Linked DNA regions of Homo sapiens. The protein of the gene in region 1 purifies or fractionates together with the protein of each later gene. This does not show direct contact. Each region holds a gene or a part of one and is shown on either strand. Other genes may lie near its edges.

Region 1 (7,023 bases):
TATGTTTCAATTCCTCCATGTCCTTACCAACACTTTTTGTCTGACTTCTTGATTGTAGCTATCCCAGTGGATGTGAAATGATATCTCACTGTGATTTTGATCTGCATTTCTCTGATGGTTAATAATGTTGAGTATCTTTTTGTGTGTTTATTGGTCCTTTGTATATCTTTTTTTGAGATGGAGTCTCACTCTGTCACCCAGGCTGGAGTGCAGTGGTGTAATCTTGGCTCATTGCAACCTCTGCCTCCCAGATTCAAGTGATTCTTCTGCCTCAGCCTCCCAGATAGCTGGGATTACAGGTGCCTGCCACCACACCCGGCTAATTTTTGTATTTTTAGTAGAGACAGGGTTTCACCATGTTGACCAGGCTGATCTCGAACTCCTGACCTCAAGTGATCTGCCACCTTGGCCTTCCAAAGCGCTGGGATTACAGACGTGAGCCACTGCACCCAGTCCATTTGTATATCTTTTCTGGAGAAATGGCTATTCAAATCCTTTGTCTATTTTTTTATTTGGTTGTCTTTTTATTACTGATTTGTAATAATTCTTGATGTATTCTATATAGACCACCCCCTTATCAGATATATAATTTGCAAAAATTTTCTCCCATTCTGTGGCTTGTCATTTTACTTTCTTGATGGTATTGAGACACAGAATTTTTGAGGTTTTTCCCCTCCTCTTGTCTTCTACAAAAAGTTTTTAATTTTGATGAAGTCCAATTTATTTTTTCTTTTGCTACTTGTTCTTTTGGTATCATATCTAAGAAACCATTGCCGAATCCCAGAATCATGAAGCCTCCCTCTCTGTGTTTTCTTCGAAGTTTTATCATTTTAGCTTATAAATTTAGGTATTTGATCCATTTTGAGTTAATTTTTGTGTATAGTATAAAGAAAGGGACAGGCATGGTGGCTCACACCTGTAATCCCAGCACTTTGGGAGGCTGAGGCAGGCGAATTGCCTGAGGTCAGGAGTTCGAGACCAGCCTGGCCAACATGGTGAAACCCCGTCTCTACTAAAAATCCAAAAAAATTTGCTGGGCGTGGTGGTGGGTACCTGTAATCCCGCTACTTGGGAGGCTGAGGCAGGAGAATCGCTTGAACTCGGGAGGCGGAAGTGGCAGTGAGCCAAGATCGCGCCACTGCACTCCAGCCTGGGCAACCAGAGCAAGACTCTGTCTCAAAAAAAAAAAAAAAAAAAAAAGAAAAGAAAGAAAGGTCCAACTTCATTTTCTCATTTGTGGATATCCAGTGGTCCTAGCATCATGTATTGAAAATAATACATTAAAAATTATATAGCTGTCCCTTGGTATATGTAGGGTATTCGTTCCAGAATCTCCATATACACCCAAATCCTTGCATATTCAAGTTTCACAGTTGATTCTTCAGAACCTGTTTATACAAAAAATCATCCCTCTGTATATGTATATGCAGTTTTTGCACCCTGAAAATACTGTATTTTCAATCCTGGGTTGGTAGAAAAAAATCAGCTTTTAAGTGTATCCACATAGTTCAAACCCATGTTGTTCAAGTCTCAACTGTAGTTTGTACTGTCTTTTTATCTGAATGTGGGGGGTATAGTGTGGTGGGCTCTTCTCTCATTCCCCCAGTTCCTGGAAGTCTAGATTGCATGCCTTTTAATCCACCATTAGAAGTCTTCTGATTCTGATTTAATTGCTCTGAGTTGATGCCCAGGTATGAGCATTTATGAAACGCTCTCTAGGTGATTCTAATGTGCAAGCCAGGTTAAGACCTAATGAACTAAACACTTAATAGTCGTAAAGAGGACCAAACAGGAGTGATTGGGAGGCACACTGCTGGAAGAGGAGGTGTGCTGGCGTGCGCTGGGTTGTGTTGTAACAACATGACTATGTCCTCCACCCTACAGGTGGCAGCATCTCCTTACTGAGAGAATACACGTACTATGTCAGTACTTTTTGGGGCTAGAAGTACTGTAGGAATGAAGTATGCAAAATAAAAGGACCCTCTGTATTGAAAATAAATATATAAATAAATAAAGCCCAGTAGAAGAGAGCACAAACCCGAAGAAGCACTCTTCTTCCTCCTGTAAATGAAGAAAAATATTATTGTTCTGTAACTTAAACACCTTTTTAAATAGCCATTTAATTATTTTATCTTATTTTATTTCTCTAGAGATGGGATCTCGTTCTGTCTCCCAGGCTGGAGTGCAGTGGTATGATCATAGCTCACTGCAGCCTCAAACTCCTGGGCTCAAGCAGTCCTCCCACCTCAGCTTCCCAGGTAGCTGGGACTACAGGTGTGTGCCACCAGGCCAAGCTGATTTTTAAAATTTGTTTTTCTTTTCTTTTCTTTTCTTTTTTTTTTTTTGAGATGGAGTTTCGCTCTTGTTGCCCAGGCTGGAGTGCAATGGCGTGATCTCGGCTCACCACAACCTCTGCCTCCCGAGTTCAAGAGATTCTCCTGCCTCAGCCGCCCGAGTAGCTGGGATTACAGGCACCCGCCACCATGCCAGGCTAATTTAGTATTTTTAGTAGAGGCGGGGTTTCTCCGTGTTGGTCAGGCTGGTCTTAAACGCCGGACCTCAGGTGATCCGCCTGCCTCAGCCTCCCGAAGTGCTGGGATTACAGGCACGAGCTATTGCGTCCAGCCTTGGAACTATTTAATTTCATTTTACAAATGATACAGAGAGAACTCTACTTTGCCCCATTAGTTTTTACCTTTTGTTCTCTGGGCATGATGAAACAATCTGTCTTTAAAATAACTATAGGAACACAAATTGAATTTTTAAATTAGTTAAAAATCTTAGGTATTTTAAGTATATAAAATACAAATAAAATGCCCTTTATTTTCTAAAATTGTATTTGTAGAAAAGCATGAGGACTCTGGTTGCTCCAGAAGAAATTAAAAAAAAGAAGAAGAAAGAAAAGTGTGAGGACTGCAAGCCACATGCCATGGTTTTTGTGTTGTCTGAAATCTTTGCTCTGCCAAGAACAAAGCTTATCAGCCTGTTGCTCTCAGTAAATCACCTTCAGTAATCTTCAGTGATCAGTTCTTCCTCTTGTGTTGAACACAAATGTTCAACAACAGCGTTAAACAACACTGTGCATAATCCATTTTTTTTTTATTTTAAGGAATCTCCAGTAGCAGATCTCCCATCATTGGTGTCAGAAATCTTTTTTGGATGTCATTAGTGCTTCAGAGTCCCATTAGGATATATTGTGCTCTAGACCAGTGCTCCTCAGTTTGCACTAGTTTGGGAACTAGTGCAGGTCTGTAAACTGTTCCTGGCCCACAGTTAACGAATATTTTAAAACTTGTATGGCAATTTGACATTGTCTCTGTGTATTCATTGTGTTTCATGAAAGTATTGGTCTGTAGAGGATTGAGGAAAGCACAAAACTGGTCCTTCTCTACAGATGGTCAAGTAGCTTTGAAGAGGAAGTACCTAAAGAAACCACCTTTCTTTTTACATTTATTTTCTCTCCGTCTCTCTCAGGGATTTTATATTGGAAGACATGGATCTTGCTGCCAACGAGATCAGCATTTATGACAAACTTTCAGAGACTGTTGATTTGGTGAGACAGACCGGCCATCAGTGTGGCATGTCAGAGAAGGCAATTGAAAAATTTATCAGACAGCTGCTGGAAAAGAATGAACCTCAGAGACCCCCCCCGCAGTATCCTCTCCTTATAGTTGTGTATAAGGTAAAATGTTTCCTGAGTTGGTAATTGCTTCAACAGAACACAAACTGTTCAACATTCTTCACAAATGCTATTGTTGACTAATCCCACCACTGAGCATTGGTTTTTCCGTGAATAAATTGGCCTTTGCTCTTGTTACCATGTGTTACTAGGAAATTTGACTGTGTTGTTAAAGGTCCTAGATGAAAGCTGCATATTTACAGTTAAATTATATTTGTGTAATATTATTATTTAATTTTTTATTATTTGTTTGTTTGTTGTGTGTGTGTGTTTTGAGACGGAGTCTCACTCTTGTTGCCTAGGCTGGAGTGCAATGGCGCAATCTCGGCTCACCGCAACCTCTGCCTCCTGGGTTCAAGTGATTCTCCTGCCTCAGCCTCCCAGGTAGCTGGGATTACAGGCGTGCGCCACCACACCCAGCTAATTTTGTATTTTTAGTAGAGACAGGTTTTCTCCATGTTGGTCAGGCTGGTCTTGAACTCCTGACCTCAGGTGATCTGCCCACCTCAGCCTCCCAAAGTGCTTGGATTATAGGCGTGAGCCACCACGCCTGGCCTTGTGTTTTGTTTTTTTTTGTTGTTTTTTTTTTGAGATGGAGTCACACTCTGTTGCCCAGGCTGGAGTGCAGTGGCGTGATCTCAGCTCACTGCAACCTCCGCCTCCCAGGTTCAAACGATTCTCCTGCCTCAGCCTCCCAAGTAGCTGGGATTACAGCCATGTGCCACCACACCTGGCTAATTTTTGTATTTTTAGTAGAGACAGGGTTTCTCCATGTTGGTCAGGCTGGTCCTGAACTCCTGACCTCAGGTGATCTGCCCTCCTCGGCTTCCCAAAGTGCTGGGATTACAGGCCTAAGTCATCGCACCTGAACAGATTTTTTATTTTTCTAGTCAAGGTCACACTGTGTTGCCCAGGCTGGAGTGCAGTGGTGCCATCATGGCTCACTGCAGCCTCGAACTCCCAGACTCAGGTGATCCTCCCATCTCAGCCTCCCAAGTACCTAGGACCACAGGCATGTGCCACCACACCTGGCTAATTTTTCTATTTTTTGTAGAGATGGGGGTTTTTCCGTGTTGTCCAGGCTGGTCTCGAACTCCTGGGCTCAAGTGACTTGAGTCCAGTCAATCACTGTCAGACTGAGTTCGAGACTGCCCACCTCAGTCTCCCAAAGTGCTGGGGTTACAGGTGTGAGCCACTGCAGCCAGCCTTTATGTATGTATTTATTTATTTTTTGAGACAGAGTTTCACTCTTGTTGCCCAGGCTGGAGTGCAATGGTGTGATCTTGGCTCAGTGCAACCTCCGCCTCCCAGGTTCAAGCAATTCTCCTGCCTCAGCCTCCCAAGTAGCTGGGATTACAGGCATGCGCAACCATGCCCGGCTAATTTTGTATTTTTAGTAGAGATGGGAGTTTCACTATGTTGGTCAGCTGGTCTCGAACTCCTGACCTCAGGTGATCCACTCACCTCAGCCTCCCAAAGTGCTGGGATTACAGGCATGAGCCACTGTGCCTGGCCTAATACTTGTATTTTTGGTAGAGGTGGGGTTTCACCATGTTGGCCAAGCTGGTCTCGAACTCTTGACCTAAGGTGATACACCCGCCTTGGCCTCCCAAAGTGCTGGAATTACAGGTGTGAGCCACTGCGCCCGGCCCCTTTGTGTATTATTATTATTATTATTATTATTATTATTATTTTTTTTTTTTTTTTTTTTTTTTTTTTTTTGAGATGCAGTCTCACTCTGTTGCCCAGGCTAGAGTGCAGTGGTGCGATCTTGGCTCACTGCAAGCTCCATCTCCCAGGTTCACACCATTCTCCTGCCTCAGCCTCCTGAGTAGCTGAGACTACAGGCGCCCATCACCACATCCGGCTAATTTTTTGTATTTTTAGTAGAGACAGGGTTTCGCCGTGTTGGCCAGGATGGTCTCGATCTCCTGACCTCGTGATCCACCTGCCTCGGCCTCCCAAAGTGCTGGGATTACAGGCGTGAGCCACTGCGCCCGGCCCCCTTTGTGTATTATTATTATTATTTTTATTTATTTATTTTTATTTTTTTTTTGAGACGGAGTCTCTCGCTCTGTCGCCCAGGCTGGAGTGCAGTGGCGCGATCTCGGCTCACTGCAAGCTCCGCCTCCCGGGTTCCCGCCATTCTCCGGCCTCAGCCTCCCAAGTAGCTGGGACTACAGGCGCCCACCATCATGCCTGGCTAATTTTTTTGTATTTTTAGTAGAGACGGGGTTTCACCGTGTTAGCCAGGATGGTCTCGATCTCCTGACCTCATGATCTGCCCGCCTCGGCCTCCCAAAGTGCTGGGATTACAGGCGAGAGCCACCATGCCCAGCCTGTGTATTTTTAAATGGTGAATTTTAAAATACACTGATTATATGGTAGCAGCTTGGTGAGCCTTGCAGTCCCTATAGTTCTCAAATTCTAAATTCTTCCAGAAGTAAACCTAAGTGGCTTGTTTATGAAAATGGATTAGTTCTTAAGGCACATTGGAAGTAGCAGAAGAAGCCTGTTTTGTTTTGTTTTTTTTCTTGGTATTAAGGTATTTGTTTGCTGGGATTAATGCCTTTTCTATCTTTCCTTGTAGGTTCTCGCAACCTTGGGATTAATCTTGCTCACTGCCTACTTTGTGATTCAACCTTTCAGCCCATTAGCACCTGAGCCAGTGCTTTCTGGAGCTCACACCTGGCGCTCACTCATCCATCACATTAGGCTGATGTCCTTGCCCATTGCCAAGAAGTACATGTCAGAAAATAAGGGAGTTCCTCTGCATGGGGGTGATGAAGACAGACCCTTTCCAGGTAAAATGCAACATTTATTACTTATTAGATATAGTTTTCTTGACAGTATATGATAGGAAAGGAAGTAACATTTATTGATACCTAATGAGAGGCAAGCTCCCTATATTGTATCTTTTAATTCAGTCCCCACTAAAACTCTATGAGATGGGGTTTATTATCCCCGTTTCACAGATTAAGAAACCAAGGGTCAGAGAGATTAAGAAACTCGCTAGAGGAACATCTGGTAGAGCCAAATACACACCCCCAAATTCCAGAACACACATGATGGGGACAAATGTCTTTGCCCATAAAAAGGATTTGATTGTATCTCATCCTTTTCTCTCCTGTGATTCCTGTCCATAATGCATATTTAATACATAGGTATTGGTTTATTGAAAGCAACCGAGTTCAGCTTGCTTCTAAAGGTCCTCTAACAGTCCTTGGCCTATTGGGCTAGGTTTTTGTCTGGGTATATCCCACTCTTTCAGTTTAGTCCTTCTGTCTGTCACAGCTCATTTAATTTAGTCCTCTAAAGTATATCAATTTTGCCAGTAAGTAGAA
Region 2 (7,531 bases), on another chromosome or scaffold:
CACTTGAAACTCACTTCTGTTCCCATTATTTTACAAAACCACTCTAAGATCAACAGTGATATCCATGTTGCTGAACCCAAAGGACATTTTTCAAGCTCCCTTATCTCACCTCCCAGCACTATATGCTCCTACTGATCACCACCTTCACGAAACCCTCTTTTCCTCTGAATCTTAGCATAGCGGCCTGTTGGTATGCCTTGTTCAACAGATGTTTATTAAGCATCTATTTTGTGCCAAGTACTATTTCAGGCACTGGGAACATAGTGATGAACAACAGACAACCTGTTTTTGTGACACTTACATTTTACCTCTCTGACCCCACTTTCTGCTTTGAAGGCTCCTACTCTCCTCCTTGACCATTAAATGCTGAAATTTTCCAGAGCTCAGTCCTAAGACCTCTTCTTTCCAGAAGAAATCTCATCAGTACCCACAGCCTTAATGGCCATACATGTCGATGCCACACAAATATGTATCTCTAGCTTATACCTCTCTCCTGCTTCTTGAGAAAGCAGAATATCCACCTGCCTTCTCAGTGTATCTACTTGGAAGACTTACAGGAACCTGACAATCAACATGTCCAAGACTGAATTCATCATCTCCCCTTCTAAACCCCTCCATGACTGGAACCATTATCCATCTATAGCTGTGTAAACCAGTACTTTCTTCCTCACACCTTCTCCCTGACCCAGTCCCAATCCATTACCAGATCCTATTGAATATACATTCCTAGTATCTCTAAAATATTTCCATTTTCCCCATCTGCAATGCCACCATTGTAGTTCAAGCTACTACCATTTCTGGCCTATTACAAGTTTCCTAGGTGGCCCATACACTGAAGCCATATTTCAAAATCTAAACTGGATCGTGTCATCCAGCTGGCTAAAGCCTTTCGATGACTTCACACTGCCTACGAGGCCTACTGGCCTCTGGATCTCTCTTACCCTCATCAGTATCATGCTGCTCCTTCTCTAGGCATTTCCACACAGGCCTCCTCTCAGGCTCTCAAACCCGCCCAGCGTCTTTACTGACCTGATCCCCCCACCCCCAACACACACACCAAAGGCTCTTCCACAGCCGCCCCTTATCCACCTTCACCTGCAGCTACTCTAGCTCGTTAGCACTCAATGCAAGCAGCATTTCCTCAGGGAAACCTTTGTAGCACCTTCAGAACAAGGTCAGGTGCCAGCTCATAAGCTCTCAAAGATCCTTCTGAGACAATACTATAGTTTTTTTGTTTTTGTTTTTTAAATAAAGAGATGGGGTCTCACTATGTTTCCCAGGCTGGTCTCAAACTCCTAAGCTCAAGCGATCCTCCCACCTCGGCTTCCCAAAGTGCTAGGATTACAGGCGTGAGCCACCGCACCCGGCCACTATAGTTTTAATTGTATATTCATTAGTGTGATTATTTGATTTGCTTATCTTTTCCACTGAACCTTAAAGTTCCAAAATCAGGGACCGTGTGCATTTGTGTTCACCCATGGATCCCTTAACCCTAGCACAAAGTGTTTACACATGGTAAACACTCCGGAAATGGTTATTTTTTTCTGAGACGAAATCTCACTCTGTTGCCCAAGCTGGAGTGCAGTGGCGCGATCTCAGCTCACTGCAACCTCTACCTCCCAGGTTCAAGCAATTCTCCTGCTTCAGCCTCCCAATTAGCTGGGACTACAGGCATGCACCACGATGCCCGGCTAATTTTTGTATTTTTAGTAGAGATGGGGTTTCACTATGTTAGCCAGACTGGTCTTGAACTCCTGACCTTGTGATCCACCCGCTTTGGCCTCCCAAAGTGCTGGGATTACAGGTGTGAGCCACCGCGCCCGGCCAACACTCCGGAAATGTTTACCGAAACACGGACAACCAGGCATGACACTCTTGGAGATTACATTCACTTGGCTCATGTCCACAGAAAAACCCACATTACCGCAATAATAATCGTGAGAAACCAAAATTCTAATTAAATAAATTAGTCCTAATAATTAGCACGTGATTAACTGCTTTATTCACCAATCTCTATTTATCCAACAACTATGCATTGAGAATTTACTATGGACCAAGGACCGTGCTGGAAGTTATTCATACTGTGGTGGCAAAACGAAGTCCCTGTCCTCACGGAGCTTACAAAAATTAATGTCCAACCAGGAGGTGATCTGAAAAGCACGCACACATAGAATAATTTAGGGTGGTAGAGGAGACGCCTCACCAAATTCTACTTTATGGAAATTCTATATTACTAAAACAGTAGATATCAATATTCCCAAAGTTTCTGAGATAAGTAGGTGTTCAAAACAGTATCATGCTGCTCCTTCTCTAGGCACTTCCACACAGCCCTCTTCTCAGGCTCTCAAACCTGCCCAGCTTCTTTACCGACCTGATTCCCTCTACACCAAGGGGGTAGCGTTGTTGTTTAGCGTTGCTACTACAGAAAAGAGGGAGTGTATCTGCTGGGCCTGCTTTACCTTGGAAGTTATGATTGCATCTCATCCTAGCCAGTCAGCTTTGTCCCAAAAAAAGTCAAAATCCCTGCCTATTTGAATAAATCATCTGGTTGCAACTACAACTCCATGTCCTTCCTTCTCAAATGAGTGGGGAGAATTCAAATAATAAGCAAAAAACTGAAATCAAACAAGCAGAGGGATAAAACCAGTATGGGTAACAGCTAAGTGTTTAAATATTGTTTTGGGTAGAGAATAAGGAGACTGGTCTAAGTCTCTTGATAATCCAAAACTTCCACCTCATCACTTACTTTAACAGAAATGAAATAAGGCCTGGACTAGAGAACAGGTTACTCCTGAGTGTAGCATGTTTCCACTACATAAAGTCACCAAACTTATTTTTAGTCTTAAAGTAACAATAAATCTTACCCCATATACTTTTATTATCTAAAGTCTCAGCTTAAGTCATCTTAGGCTGAATATAGTTACTTCTCTGTTATCAATGATAATGATGACCCAGAGAAAAATAGGATAACCAAATTCACTGACGCGCTCAGAAATTCTTTTTAAAACTGTAATTTAAGTTAGGTTTTATGGCAAGCTTTCCCAAAGTACTAACGTAGAACCCTTTGGATTTAGGCATCAGGCTTGAGTAAGTATTTCAAAGTTCTAAAAAGTATTAGTAGCAAAGAACATAAAGTCACACAAAACCAGAACTGTCCACAAATATTACTAGGCACTAAAGAAGAAAGCAACTTACTCCTGGACAGAAATTCAAACGCAAATCTCAGTTTCCAAAGGATTGACTAAGGACTAAGTAAAAGTAATAGTTTCGTAATTCTAAGCAACTCTAACAAGCATTCTTTAAACACCTTCTACATTTTAAGACACAAAGTATGTAAAGAATTAAGCCTTTCATTGAATATTTCCTATATATTAGACATGTGCTAAATGCTTCACTTGAAAAGTCTGAGTTCAATACTTTTCCACCACAAAAGAAATACTTTTTCCACAACCACAACTACAGTGCTATTTTCACCTCCATTTTCCAGATGAAGAAACAGAGGCAGAGAATAAAGTGACTTGCCTAAGGTCACAATATTTATCATGGCAGAGCCAACACTCAAAACCAGTTCTAGCCAACACTAAAGTCACTGCCCTACACTGGCCCTCCCTCAAGAGTAATGCATACATGGCCCAAAAAATCCGGGGAGAGGAAAGGGACCTCCCTGGCTAGAACCGCAGTTCAGAATATAAACACTGAGCATATGATGGATGCAACTTATCCGTTTCAAAAGGGGTGGGAGCCTAGAAACGAAGCCATTTTTCCTCCTCGAATAATCTTGGCTGCCTGTCCCTTTGTCTTCAATGTTAGTTCCTTTCACTATTCTGCTCCCAAACAGGCCAGGTCCCACGTCAGTTCCAGGAGGAAAGGGCTCTCTCAGCCTGCGGGTCATCTTTGGGCAGCAGCAGGAAGGAGGCGGCGACCCTCTGAATACCTCCTTTGGACTCGCCATCTGGACGTAAAGGGTTCGCCTGCTCCATCTCAGATTCCCAAGGGCCTTCCCATGAAGTTGTCTAGGCAACCGGTGATAGGGACTCCAATGTCCTTGCTAATAAAAGAAAAATGGCAACAGTCACATCACATCTAGTCCCATTCAAACCCAGACGGCAGGGCACACACCACTCAGGCACAACCCCTGGGCCGCGGATGACACAAATGTCACGGCTAGGATCCCCTTTCCTGAGCCGCCCGCCCTCTCCCATCGTCCGAGCCAGCAGAGTCCATGCCCACCCCCGCGCCCATCCCGCGGCCCCGGCGCGCTCCCGAGGCCACGGCTACTCTGGTCCAGCGGGCTTCCCGGCCACGGAAGGAGTTTTAAGAAGGCCGTTCAGCCCGCCACCCTGGCCACGGTCCGGTCCGACAATGGGTCTTTCCCCTACCTTCTCCCTTCTAGCTCACCCAGGCCAGAAGCGAGAATTCCCGCCATCCACGTCTTCAAAACCAAACCAACCGGTCCCGGCGTGCTTTGCGATCCTGCCGTACAAAAGCATGGCGGCGCTCAGGGCCCCGCCCTGATCCCAAGATGCACCGGGGAGTAGGTCCGGCCTTTCGGGTGGTCAGGAAGATGGCGGCCTCTGGGGCGGAGCCGCAGGTCCTGGTACAATACTTGGTGTTACGAAAGGATCTATCACAAGCTCCGTTCTCCTGGCCGGCGGGCGCACTGGTAGCGCAGGCTTGTCACGCGGCCACCGCGGCCTTGCACACTCACCGCGACCACCCGCACACAGCCGCTTACCTCCAAGAGCTGGGGCGCATGCGCAAAGTGGTCCTCGAGGTGAGGCACTCGGGCGGAGGGGGAGGTGCTGAGACATCGAGGGCGGAAGTGGGTGTGGTCTTCGGTCCGAAGGCCTGGCTGCGGGGAGTGGGTGCGGCGGGAGTTGGGGTGATCGTTAACATTTAGACTGGAGCTGTTTCCCTGGAGGTGCGCCCTTGGGAAGGGCCTGACTGTGTGAAGAGTGGACAGCAGTCCTCCGCCCCCTGCTGGGCTCGCGGTAAAGTGGTGGCTCCTGTGTCCCCGCTGTTCCGCCTGTGCACTGGCCGACTTTTTAAAGCCATGCCCCAAAGTGCTGTCCTCCTGCAAAACCGAGCCCGAAGGGACAGTGCAAAGTGAAGTCAAACTGAGTATTTACCTGGGTAGGACGCCAAATTATTTGAAAATAAATACTAAAAACGTTAGTATAAATTGAACCTAGCTTCAGCTAGACCAGGCACCAGGTGTGTAAATCGGTACACCTTTTAAAATAGCAGTCAGGTTCTGTTTGCAGATGACCAAACAAATCTCACCCTTACCCTTTGACTCTCTATCCTGCTGCTAGAGATGTAGCCTAAGAAAATAATCAGATGCACCCAAAGAGCTTTGCACAAGGATATTCATGGGAGCCCTTATGGTTTTGAAGCATATTTAGTGGTCGGGAAGAGTGCTCATGATGCGAAGCTAACTGAACTATATATACAGAATGATCCAGACTTTGAAAGGAAAAACTAAAGAAATACATCTACATATTAAGTAGTGCATGGTGAGATTTTGGTTATTTCCTAATGCTTAATCTGTATTTTTAAAATTTTCTACCTTAAGCACATATTTTATAATAAGGAAAAACGGCTTTAATAATAAACGGCTTTTTATAATAAGGAAAAACGGCTTTAAGCCAGAACTCAGGTGGAGGGGTGGAGTAATCCCTTCATGGGTAACTGACAAAGATAGATTATCTTTCAAGAGAAAAATTGCTGCTGGATAGTGAAACATCAAGCGGTAACCTGTAGGAAAAATGCCTTGAGAATCTGTGTAGGCAGAACAGAAGCTGCTGGCTTTTCACTTAGATTTTCTTCCTAGTAAGAGGTCTCAAGAAATCAGGTTAGACTCCTCTTGTCGCAGGTGAAACTCTCTGAAGCCTACAGGGATTAAGTGACTCCCCTGAGTTTAAAAGAGGGTCTCATGATTCTTAGTTGTTAGTCATGACTCAAGAAAGGGACTTAGGAGTCGCTACTGATTACATTGAGGTGCCGCTGTAGTCAGAAGGGCCAATAAAATATAAGAAAATACCAGGATTAACTACATTTATTGAGTGCTTAGTGTGTGCCAGGCACAGGTCCAAGCCTGATTTCATTGATCCCCATTAGGAAGCATTATTCCTGTTTTATAAAGGGACGAAGAGGCCAGCGAAGTCACCTAACTTATCCACGATCACACAGTCAGCAAGAGTTTGGAGTCCAGTAGTCTGATTCCAGAGCCTCACTGTATCTCACTATGCTCTGCTGCTGCCCGAGGCTGAAGAAGCTGATGAGTCCTCCAGCAGAGCTCTGCCAGAAGGACTCAGCAGGTTAAGAGTCGCAATACTGGCATTCTCTAATTTATTAAAACAAGCCTCTGAGTAGCTTAGTGGCTTCTGCCTTCATAGGTAAGAGATAAACTTTATGCAAAATAACACAAAAATAATAATTTTCTGAGTGATCGTTTTAATACTTCCTGGAATGGGATTCAGCATGGGTGAATTGGCAGTAAGGATGACCCAGAAACAATTTCAGAAGGATGTTAGAGAATATTGTACTCTCCCTTTAATAAACAAGTGGGAGCCATCCCAGCAGAAGGAAAACCCCTCTAGGTTTCAGTGAGGTAGAGTGGGAGGGGTGGAGGAAAGTGGAAGTGGATGTGCTTTTAGAAATCCTTCCACTAGGGGCCGGGCATGGTGGCTCACTCCTGTAATCCTAGCACTTTGGGAGGCTTAGGTGGGTGGATTGCTTGAGGTCAGGAGCTCCAGACCAGCCTGGGCAACATGGTGAAACCCCGTCTCTACTAAAAATACAAAAATTAGCCAGGTGTAGTGGTGTGCGCCTGTAATCCCAGCTACTCGGGAGGCTGAGGCAGGAGAATTGCTTGAACTCGGGAGCCAGAGACTGCAGTGAGCTGATAATCGTGCCACTGCACTCTAGCCCAGGCGACAGAGCAAGACTCTGTCTCAAAAGAAAAAAAAAAAAAAACTTCCACTAGGCAGCTCTTAAAGTCAGAGGCACTTAAAATTATGGGCGCCAGCCATAGGAGAGCTGGAAAATGTATAGAGCAGAATTACACATTACACATGTGTGTGTTGGGCATACAACATCTCACAAGGGAAGATACAAATCTCCATTTTCTAAACTGGAATATGAAGCCTCTCTCCCCTCCCCAGTGCACCACGGAATGACATCATTGCTCTGCAGCTCCCTCCTTGGTAAAGCTGTTACTCCACTTTCAGGCAAGAGGACTCCCGAAACCTTTTTTGGCCTTTTGACACTTCCTAAGTGGGCTATTCAGTTTGTGTTCTGTGTTCTTCTCCTTTAGGCCCCAGATGAGACCACCCTAAAGGAGCTGGCCGAGACCCTGCAACAGAAGAACATTGACCACATGCTGTGGCTTGAGCAACCAGAGAATATCGCCACTTGTATTGCTCTCCGGCCCTACCCCAAGGAAGAAGTGGGCCAGTATTTGAAGAAGTTCCGATTGTTCAAGTAACTGCTGCTTTGATGTGTTTGAATACGCAGGCCACCCATTCCA

What was found.
Region 2: the proteins of C6orf89 (region 1) and PTRHD1 purify together in Homo sapiens (affinity purification with mass spectrometry; 3 studies listed by BioGRID and IntAct, with this or other methods). This does not show direct contact.

The regions. Positions count from the first base shown.
Region 1 is NC_000006.12:36,895,952-36,902,974, forward strand, and holds part of C6orf89 (bombesin receptor-activated protein C6orf89), read left to right. Parts: intron 1-2,155; exon of another isoform or gene 2,156-2,274; intron 2,275-3,474; coding exon of another isoform or gene 3,475-3,493; coding exon 3,494-3,682; intron 3,683-6,269; coding exon 6,270-6,483; intron 6,484-7,023. UniProt on the Homo sapiens protein: Exhibits histone deacetylase (HDAC) enhancer properties. May play a role in cell cycle progression and wound repair of bronchial epithelial cells.
Region 2 is NC_000002.12:24,790,369-24,797,899, reverse strand, and holds the start of PTRHD1 (putative peptidyl-tRNA hydrolase PTRHD1), read left to right. Parts: upstream 1-4,508; 5' UTR 4,509-4,522; coding exon 4,523-4,774; intron 4,775-4,824; exon of another isoform or gene 4,825-5,214; intron 5,215-5,315; exon of another isoform or gene 5,316-5,516; intron 5,517-6,120; exon of another isoform or gene 6,121-7,308; intron 7,309-7,318; coding exon 7,319-7,489; 3' UTR 7,490-7,531. Other genes in the region: CENPO (centromere protein O), read right to left, coding at 3,935-3,980. UniProt on the Homo sapiens protein: As a putative peptidyl-tRNA hydrolase, it might be involved in releasing tRNAs from the ribosome during protein synthesis. Some evidence, however, suggests that it lacks peptidyl-tRNA hydrolase activity.